Homo sapiens: one gene and its partner. The protein of the gene in region 1 purifies or fractionates together with the protein of each later gene. This does not show direct contact. Each region holds a gene or a part of one and is shown in the gene's direction. Other genes may lie near its edges.

Evidence for each region. The genes of interacting proteins can lie anywhere in the genome.
Region 2: the proteins of PYGB (region 1) and OLFM4 purify together in Homo sapiens (co-immunoprecipitation; one large-scale study listed by IntAct). This does not show direct contact.

What each region holds. Positions count from the first base shown.
Region 1 is NC_000020.11:25,274,797-25,279,864, forward strand, and holds part of PYGB (glycogen phosphorylase, brain form), read left to right. Parts: intron 1-1,849; coding exon 1,850-1,961; intron 1,962-2,447; coding exon 2,448-2,530; intron 2,531-3,522; coding exon 3,523-3,666; intron 3,667-4,260; coding exon 4,261-4,353; intron 4,354-5,068. UniProt on the Homo sapiens protein: Glycogen phosphorylase that regulates glycogen mobilization. Phosphorylase is an important allosteric enzyme in carbohydrate metabolism. Enzymes from different sources differ in their regulatory mechanisms and in their natural substrates.
Region 2 is NC_000013.11:53,045,813-53,049,184, forward strand, and holds part of OLFM4 (olfactomedin-4 precursor), read left to right. Parts: intron 1-3,372. UniProt on the Homo sapiens protein: May promote proliferation of pancreatic cancer cells by favoring the transition from the S to G2/M phase. In myeloid leukemic cell lines, inhibits cell growth and induces cell differentiation and apoptosis.

The sequences.
Region 1 (5,068 bases):
CTCAGCTTCTTTTGGCTTGGGGGGCTTGCTGCCTCCCTGGAGGACTTAAGGTAAAAGCCGGGGGAGGTTTATTCTCCTCACTCCCCAGTCTCTTACACTTTGATGGGAGCTTCCCAAACAGTGGAAGCGCTGAGCACAGCAGCGAGACTCCATGGGGGAAGCCCCGCTGGGCAGGAGCTGTGTGTTGGGGCTAAGAATGCAGCTGGGCGTCCACTCACAGCCAGATGCTCACGAGAACCCCGCTGCTTAAGGGCAGGCAGGAGGGTGTTCTGATGGGATGGGGGCACGGACCCCCAGGGTGGGCGAAAACAGCTCCCACTATCTCTGTGGAGCACACGACAAGCTCGCTTGGCCTCCTGGCGCCATACGTGGCCCATGGCTCTCAAAGCGTCAACTGTCAGAGCCCCTGGAGTGTGTGCGAGGCCTGGGTGACATCCGGGGATGGGGCCAGGCCCTCCTGCCCAGCAGGGTGCTGATGGGGAATCAGGGCAAGAGCCTAGAGTGCTCGGCAGCGACGGGTGCCAGGCACGCAGAGGCCACGTGAGGGAGCACCCAGTCCAGGCTCCGGGCAGCTGTAAGCCGGGATGACTGGGGCAGGGCAGGGGCTGGCAGGAGAGGCTGCAGGAGAACGTGGGGGCATCGGTGAGACTCAGCCACCTGTGATGGAGAAGGACGGGCAATAACAGGAGAGCCTGGAGGCTGGGTGGTCACTGGTGTGCAGAGGGAGTTGTCTTGACTTTGTAGGACACAGTTTTAAATCAAATACATGGGCTTCGAGTGGCTGGGGCCATGCCATGGAGGCTGAAAATGCCCTGAAAAGTTGTATTTAACTTGCAAGAGCAGGGTAGGGGACCGGCGCTGTAGATGTGTTTGTGGATGAGCATGTCAGTGTGAGTGGGGATGCTGGAGAACCGGGACATTCCAGGCAGGCTGTGAAGATGGGCTTAGCCCCGAGGCCTGGCCAGGATGGAAGGGGCTAGAATGCCTTGGCGGGGACTTGTCGCTCACTTGGGTGTCGCCTTGTGGGGCAGGGGCAAGGGTTGACAGGAGAGAGGAAGGGAAAGGGATACTGGGGTTTTAGTCTTGGTGGCCCCGGTGCGCCGCCTGTGTGGCTGTCAGAGCTGACTGGCAGTGCCACAGGCACGTGTGTGCCGGGATGAACCCAAGCATCCCTGAGTGCGCCTGCCGGGGAGCTGGGACCACAGGTGAGCCTCAGCTTTGTGAGCCCCCTCCTGCCCTTGGTGGTAGCGGAGCTGATGTCTCTGGATGCAGGGGAACCTGGGGGCTTGTCAAGGAGAGAGGGAGCCAGGCTGGGGTGGAGGGAGCGCAGCTGGGCTTGTGCTGGGGGGCTGGGAACATGGAGGGTAGCAGGCAAGGCAGCTGCAGGAGCAACCTTCCCGCAGGTGGAGCTGAGAGAGGTGATCTGCGGGGCAAGCATCTGCGTGTTGGAGTTGCTAGAGCAGAGTTGACTGAGGAGGGGAGGCGCGGAGGGCAGAGGGTAAGGAGGGAGGTGGGGGTTGGTGCTGCAGCACCTCAGGGAGTCGGGATGGGGATGATTCTTCAGTCAAAGCCATTCCTGAGGAAGGTCAAGTGAGAAGATAGGTCTGGTCTGGGGAGGGTGGTGGGACGGGTGGTCCTCTCAGGATGACAATGTGGGCACCACAGGGGAGGGCGTGGACGGAGACTGTGGTGCCGAGCATGGGCTGGGTGGATGTGTTTGGGCAGAAGGGGGAGACGGTGGGGGGCCAGCAGGGCGCCAGGTGCCCAGGAGGAGGCTGGGCCGGGGAGAGGCACAGGGGCCGGCGGGGGCCCTTGCCACTCCGTCCTGAGCAACCCGTTTTGTGGCCAGGTGGTGCTGGCCATGCCCTACGACACCCCAGTGCCCGGCTACAAGAACAACACCGTCAACACCATGCGGCTGTGGTCCGCCAAGGCTCCCAACGACTTCAAGCTGCAGGACTGTACGTTCCGTGGTTCTTGGCACCCTTGTGTCCATGTGGGTGGCTGGTCCCAGACACCCTCGCCCACAGCCTTTACCGCGCCCTGTGGCTCACTGTCCTGGAGGCCGCGCGGCCCTCCTCTAGGGTGTCCCTGCGTCCCAGTGAAGAGCGAGGCTGGTGCAGCTTACCTGTGTGTGGGGCCTGCCCGGGAAGGGCCTACAGGCAGAGCGACCAAGACACCTGGGCCCTGGGCACCCAGGGTCACCTTGTGCAGATCATGTGCCCCTGGGGAGGAGTGAGGGGGATGGAGTTGTGTGCGGTACATAGGGGAGCTGCAGGAGGGATCACGTTTACCTCCAGGGATGGGGGTGAGGGGAAGTAATGCAGCGGCTGGGGGAGTCCTGTGCTCGAGCGAGTTTCCTTGGCCTTTGCAAGTAGGCCCCTGAGCGGTTGCAGTGCTGGTGCCAGGAGGCATGTGTGTGTTGACCCCGCTCCATTTCTTCTTAGTCAACGTGGGAGACTACATCGAGGCGGTCCTGGACCGGAACTTGGCTGAGAACATCTCCAGGGTCCTGTATCCAAATGATAACGTGAGTAGCTGGCCTGGGCACTCTTGCTCAGGCCGTATCGCTTTCTGGCATAGAGAGGTGGGCTGGCTGGCCGGGCTCCCCAGTGGGGCCTGCTGTTGGCCTTGGCAAGCAGCCACCTGGTGGCCCTCTCGCCTTAGGTGCACACACGATGCCCTTGGGGAGGAGAGGGTGCACTGTCCTCCATAAAGCCCAAGCGGCTCTTCGTGTGCCTCTTGGCAGCTCTGTGGTCCTCTCTCCGAGGACACTCTCTGCCACCTTCCCCTCTTATCCACTCCCCTCATAAACACACAGCCGCTCCTTGGGGCCAGCTGGAGCCCGTCAGCCCTCCAGTCTGTGTGCTGTTCTAGCCTGCAGTGCCACTTCCCCAAGCAGGTGATCTGTCTGTCCAGGGGACCGTAGCGCCTACTTGGCATTGATGCCTGGGGACATTTGAAAGGTCCTTGGCACATGCCCTTCCCATACTAGGTGATGGTGTCGCAGCCATGTTCCCCACTGCCACCTGCATTTAGTGCCCAGTGGCTTTCTTTTTGTTGTTGTTGCCTGACAAGTCCTTAGAAGATGCCCTAGTGGGCAGAGCATGTTTAAAAGTGAGCTTTTTGTTTTATGAAAGTAACCTGTGCACACAGGAGCAAAGGCCTGGGTGCCGGAAGGCTCATCAAAGAGTGCACTCCCCTGTCCCCATGAGACTGTTGGCAGACCCCAAGCCCCAGGTACAGAATGTTCCAGAAGGCCTGTGCTTGGACAGTGCAGCTCCTGAGCAGCGCTGGCACTGTACTTCTGACGGATGGACACTGTGTCCCGGGGTGTGTCCCACAGGCGGGGTTACCTTCCTCAGTGACCTGAGGGCACACAGGCAGGCCCCAGTGTCAGGCAGCTGGGCTGGGCTCCTCTCGGCCTTCTGCCTGCACCTTTGAGCCAGGTCGCTGACCTGGGCTTCCTGGGGGAGGAGAATGGCCCAGCCTGCACCCTCCAGCTTGCTCTGCTGTGTGCAGTTCTTTGAGGGGAAGGAGCTGCGGCTGAAGCAGGAGTACTTCGTGGTGGCCGCCACGCTCCAGGACATCATCCGCCGCTTCAAGTCGTCCAAGTTCGGCTGCCGGGACCCTGTGAGAACCTGTTTCGAGACGTTCCCAGACAAGGTGCATGGTGGCCCTGGGAGGGATCTCAGTGCCAGGGGCTGGGCGCCTTCAGGCTCTTGAGGTTGCTTTCTCATGTCCCAAAAGGGGCTAGAGTGGAATGGTACATGCCCCTTGTCTTGGGGTCTCGTCATTCTGGGCCAGGATCCCACCTGGGCCCTCCCTTCCAGAACAAGGGCCACCGGCCTTGTTAGGAGTCAGGTCAGCAAGGGACATGGTGAAAGGCTCCTGTGCAAAGTCAGATGTGCTGGGCAGGCTAAATGGGGTTATTCCAAACAAAGCCCTATAGTTCCAGTGAGAGAGCCCCCAGCCCCGGTGGCCACGGCTCCTCCCCTCCGGCTGCAGCACATACCCGCAGCAGAGCACACAGCTGTAGGGCACTCACCAGCAGGCACATCGGGCACAGCGCACACCTGCCACAGTGCGAGCCCGACTGTCCTCCCTGCTCCCTCCACAGAACCCCTCCCTGTTCTCCAGGCTTCTCGGGGGTGGGGTGGGCTGGGCTGGCTCCTTCACTTGGGGAGCTTCGTATGCCAACAACCGTGGGTGCCCACGTGGGATGAAATGACTGAATGGCACCCCTTGTGCGACCTTCAGGTGGCCATCCAGCTGAACGACACCCACCCCGCCCTCTCCATCCCTGAGCTCATGCGGATCCTGGTGGACGTGGAGAAGGTGGACTGGGACAAGGTGAGCATGGAGGAAAAGGGCGGCACCTCCCCAGAGCCTGGAGCCCGTGCAGACCAGGGCTACAAGGAGCTGAGCTGGGGGGCCTCTTCCCTGGCCTTGGGAGAGCTGTGTGGTCATCATGCCCAGGAGAGACGCGAGCTGTGGGAGGGGTCTGGTTCCAGGAGACGGAGGTTCCGGGGGCCAGAGTATGGGGTCAGGGCGCGGGGGAGATGATAAGGATAGGGCTGTGACACTTCTCAGGGTTTCCCGTTGGTGCATTCTCATCTTGAAATTTGGTGACAGCTCCCCAAAGCGTTAAGTGTTTAGAGGTCTGTGCTCTATTCATGCACCTGCCCTCGCGATTCAGTGTATTTTGGACTTAAATATGTTTGTGTGGTAGGATTTTCTTAATCTAACCGTTACCAAATCAACATGTGGAACCATAAAACAGGCCAATGTGGTGACTCACACCCGTAATCCTAGTGCTTCGGGAAGCCAAGGCAGGAGGGTTGCTTGAGGCCGGAAGTTAGAGACCAGCCTGGGCAATACAGCAAGACCCCACCTCTAAAAAAAAAGCCAGGTGTGGCAGCACACACCCAGAAAAATAAAACCAAAAGAAACCATAAAACGATTTTTTTTAACTCCGTTTTGTAGAAACCCAAGCCCCTCTCTGGTCTTGGGGTGTGTGCACTCCAGGTGAGGCTGTACCTGTTGTGGGTACCCCAGTTCTGGCCAG
Region 2 (3,372 bases), on another chromosome or scaffold:
TCATAGAACTTTCTAATCTAAAATAATTGGCCTTCTACTCATTAACTTTTTTCCCTTAAAACTTCAGTCTGTCTCTGTTTTGCCTGTGAATCTAAATGACTGTATATAGGCCAAATGTGATCGGGTGCTCAGGGGTTGATCTCCAGTTTGCTTGGGGATGCAAGGTTCTGTGCTGGTCCATAGTGATGCTCAGTAAGTAGCTGATGATTAAATGGGGTCTGAAAGAAATGGGGTGACCTGCTAAAATCTCAAGCTTAGGGAAGAGCCACATGTTGAACAGCATATATCCAACACTTCAGAGTCAATTTAGTCTTAATCATTTTATGACTATGATTGTTTTAATTGCCTAATTCTTATAAGTCAATCATATTCTCCTCCTGGCTCAAACAAAGTTCAGTTGCCCAGTTGAGAGAGTGCATTAATAGATCCAAGACTAATTTTCCTCTGTAGGCATATAATTATTGGCTTCAAAAAAATGCTACTAACCATGATACTTTTAAAAAGCCAAGTCAGAATATTTTAAATTCTCATGATTATGGCTTCCTCAGGTATTTTCAGAGTACCATGGTGCCATCTAATGAATTGCATGATGAAGAGAGTGCCAACCAAGGCTAAACTTCTATAGAGGGTTCCTCAAATTATGTTCCATGGAGTAAATGCCAGGCTTTTTGAAAAACCAGATATGTAGCAGGGTAGAAGGCTAGTGTTTTATAAATAAGGGTAAGCTGAGTTTAGGTGACTTGATTAATCTTTCATTCCTTTATTCCACAAACATAATTTGGTGCCACTGTGTGGCTGGCCCTGTTCTGGGTACTGGGGTTACCAGCATGAGTAAAGAAACCTCCAGAAGCCACTATCTAGGAAATGAGACATCTAAACCTCCAGTTGTAACATGATGTGATTATATTGAGATATTTACCATTTACTGAGTAACATTTACATGTCTTCTCTGTATTTTTCGTAACTATTTTGCAGAGTTGGTATTATTTTTCTTCTGACATGAGGAAACTGAGGCTCAGAAGGTTAAGTAACTTGCTCAAGGATACACAACTACTGTTGGAATCAGGCTTTGAATTAGAATCTGTCTAGTAGTATTTTCCATACTAGGCTGCCTTCCATAGCTGCTCTAACAGAGAGGTGCACCTGTGATTTCTGGAGTGAAAAGAAAATTCCAACAACTCACCTATCTGCTTAACACCAAATTATTTTTGCTTCCTTGGTAGTGGAGTAGGTAAAAGGGTACTGTTGCTCCTGACAGTTCTGTGCTGTGTGTTCTCTTCCACCAGAAAATGCAAAATGATTCAATGGTCTTTCAGAATTCTTGGATCATGATTGGGCAATGGGCTGTTGCCCAAGTGTCAGGGTGAAATTGGGATGGAAACTGGGTATGAAGTATGGAATGAAGTATGTCTAAGACCTTGACATGAAGGAAGGGGCTGGCAAGGAGCATGAGATAAGGGAGGGTGGTGAGAAGCTCAGTGAAGATGGGATGGGGGGATGGGGACTCTGAGGAACAGTGGGCACTGGACTGGCTGTCAGTTTCAGTATCGTGTCCAAGATGGTTTGCTGCCAGGAGTCGAGGAAGCCCGCCATAGCATTTTTCCTGGTCTGACATTGTTGTGGCCACATTTGTAGCATTGGCAGCAATGTTGAGTTCTCATCCCCATTTCCACTTCCTTTCTACCACAGCCGGGGCCCTAAAAATAGCCCTTTATCCTTACCCATAGAGGATAAAAGGAGGATAACAAATGAACAGGAAAGTGTTTAGGAATGTTTGGGAGGTGAGAAAAACAAAGTTTCATACATTTTAATATTTACACTGGGCAATTTGAATTTTCTGGTCAACTTATGAAATGATGAGCCACTATTACTATTAGTAGTAGTAACAATAGTAATAGTACTAATACTATTATACTAATAATAATGCAATTAGTTTTATGATAATAGCAGTAGTAATAGTAATTTTTTGAGAAGTTTATTTTGGTTCCTTCATGTCTAAAAATTTCCACATCTGGGGACAGAATAGTTTAACCTCTTGGTAGTGCTTGAATAAGTTATATGCATCATCAATTTTCCTTAAATATTTTGTTGCTGTCGGTTTGGGATATTTTCTTTTCAGGAAGGCAAGACTCAATGAAGCAAACAATTATTGTCTTCCAACCTGAAAGAAAAAAAAGTGACTTTCCTCAGAGTGAAATGTAGTTAAATAAATAAGTTCTCAGGAAGATACTTTAGCTAGAAAATCCAGTTTGTAGCATATGGAAACTTGAACAGTTTTTGTTATCATTAAACTGAACACACCGCTAACTTTATTTTAATAATTCATGCATTGTTTCATAAACAAAAGCAAACAAGCATTCATCTGAGAGATCACTTTTAGTAGAAGAAATAATAATTTATAATTTTATTTATTATTTCTTCAGTGGAGAATAGTCTCTTGGCTGAAAACACGTTGCTTTTTTATTTATGAAATGGCACATGCATTATTAAAATAAACCTGTGACTGTGTTCTGCTTAATGATATGCAAAATTATTTGAGGTTGGATACAGAGTGGTTTCATTTCTCTACCTGTTGTATGGTTGGCTGGCTTTCTCACCAACTGTGGATTTATGAGAGCATTTAAGGAGCATATATTTAATTCTGGGACCAAAAAGCCCCAGCCGATTGGAAAAATAAAAACAGAATTTCTAGTAATGGTTTCACCTTTGAGCAGTCCTTGGGTGAGGAGGATGGGGAGGGAAAGCATTTAGCAAGGAAAGGAATGGGTCTTTCCATATTGGACACAGCAGAGACCCAGAGACAAAGGCTTTGCTCCCCCTTCCCCGCCTCCATGCTAATCTCAGGCAATTCTTTGGAGCTCTGCTTTTGGCTCCAGCTCACCTCATGTTCCTCAATGGCTCTCTGAGTCCCTGCAAGTATTTCAGGCCAAATCCAACAATTCAGGTTCTGCTCCTTTCCTGTCTCACCTGCTCTGCTCTGAGCAGCAGGACGAGGGAAAATGACCTCAAATATACTTGAAGTTGGGTTTTCTTTGTTATCCAATAAACCATCTCATGAGTTTTTTTGAGTGTTAAGATCCCAGAAAATGTGTGTTCAACTCTTTGGATAGTTATTATAAAAATACTGGAGGAACTTTATTTTATTTTTATAGCTCATAAACTCCTGGGATGGCAGGCATTTCAGCGGGAGTACAATGTGAAGGGTTGATCGCCCAGACTGAGTTATTTACCCAAGTGTTACAGGGAATGTAGATTCAGTGGACCAGTGAATCTTGTCCCACTTGATTGTACACATTGTGACAATGACAGTGTCTGGATGGAAAGATGAAATACTTGCATGTCATTCTATGGCACAATAGCATATGGGTTATG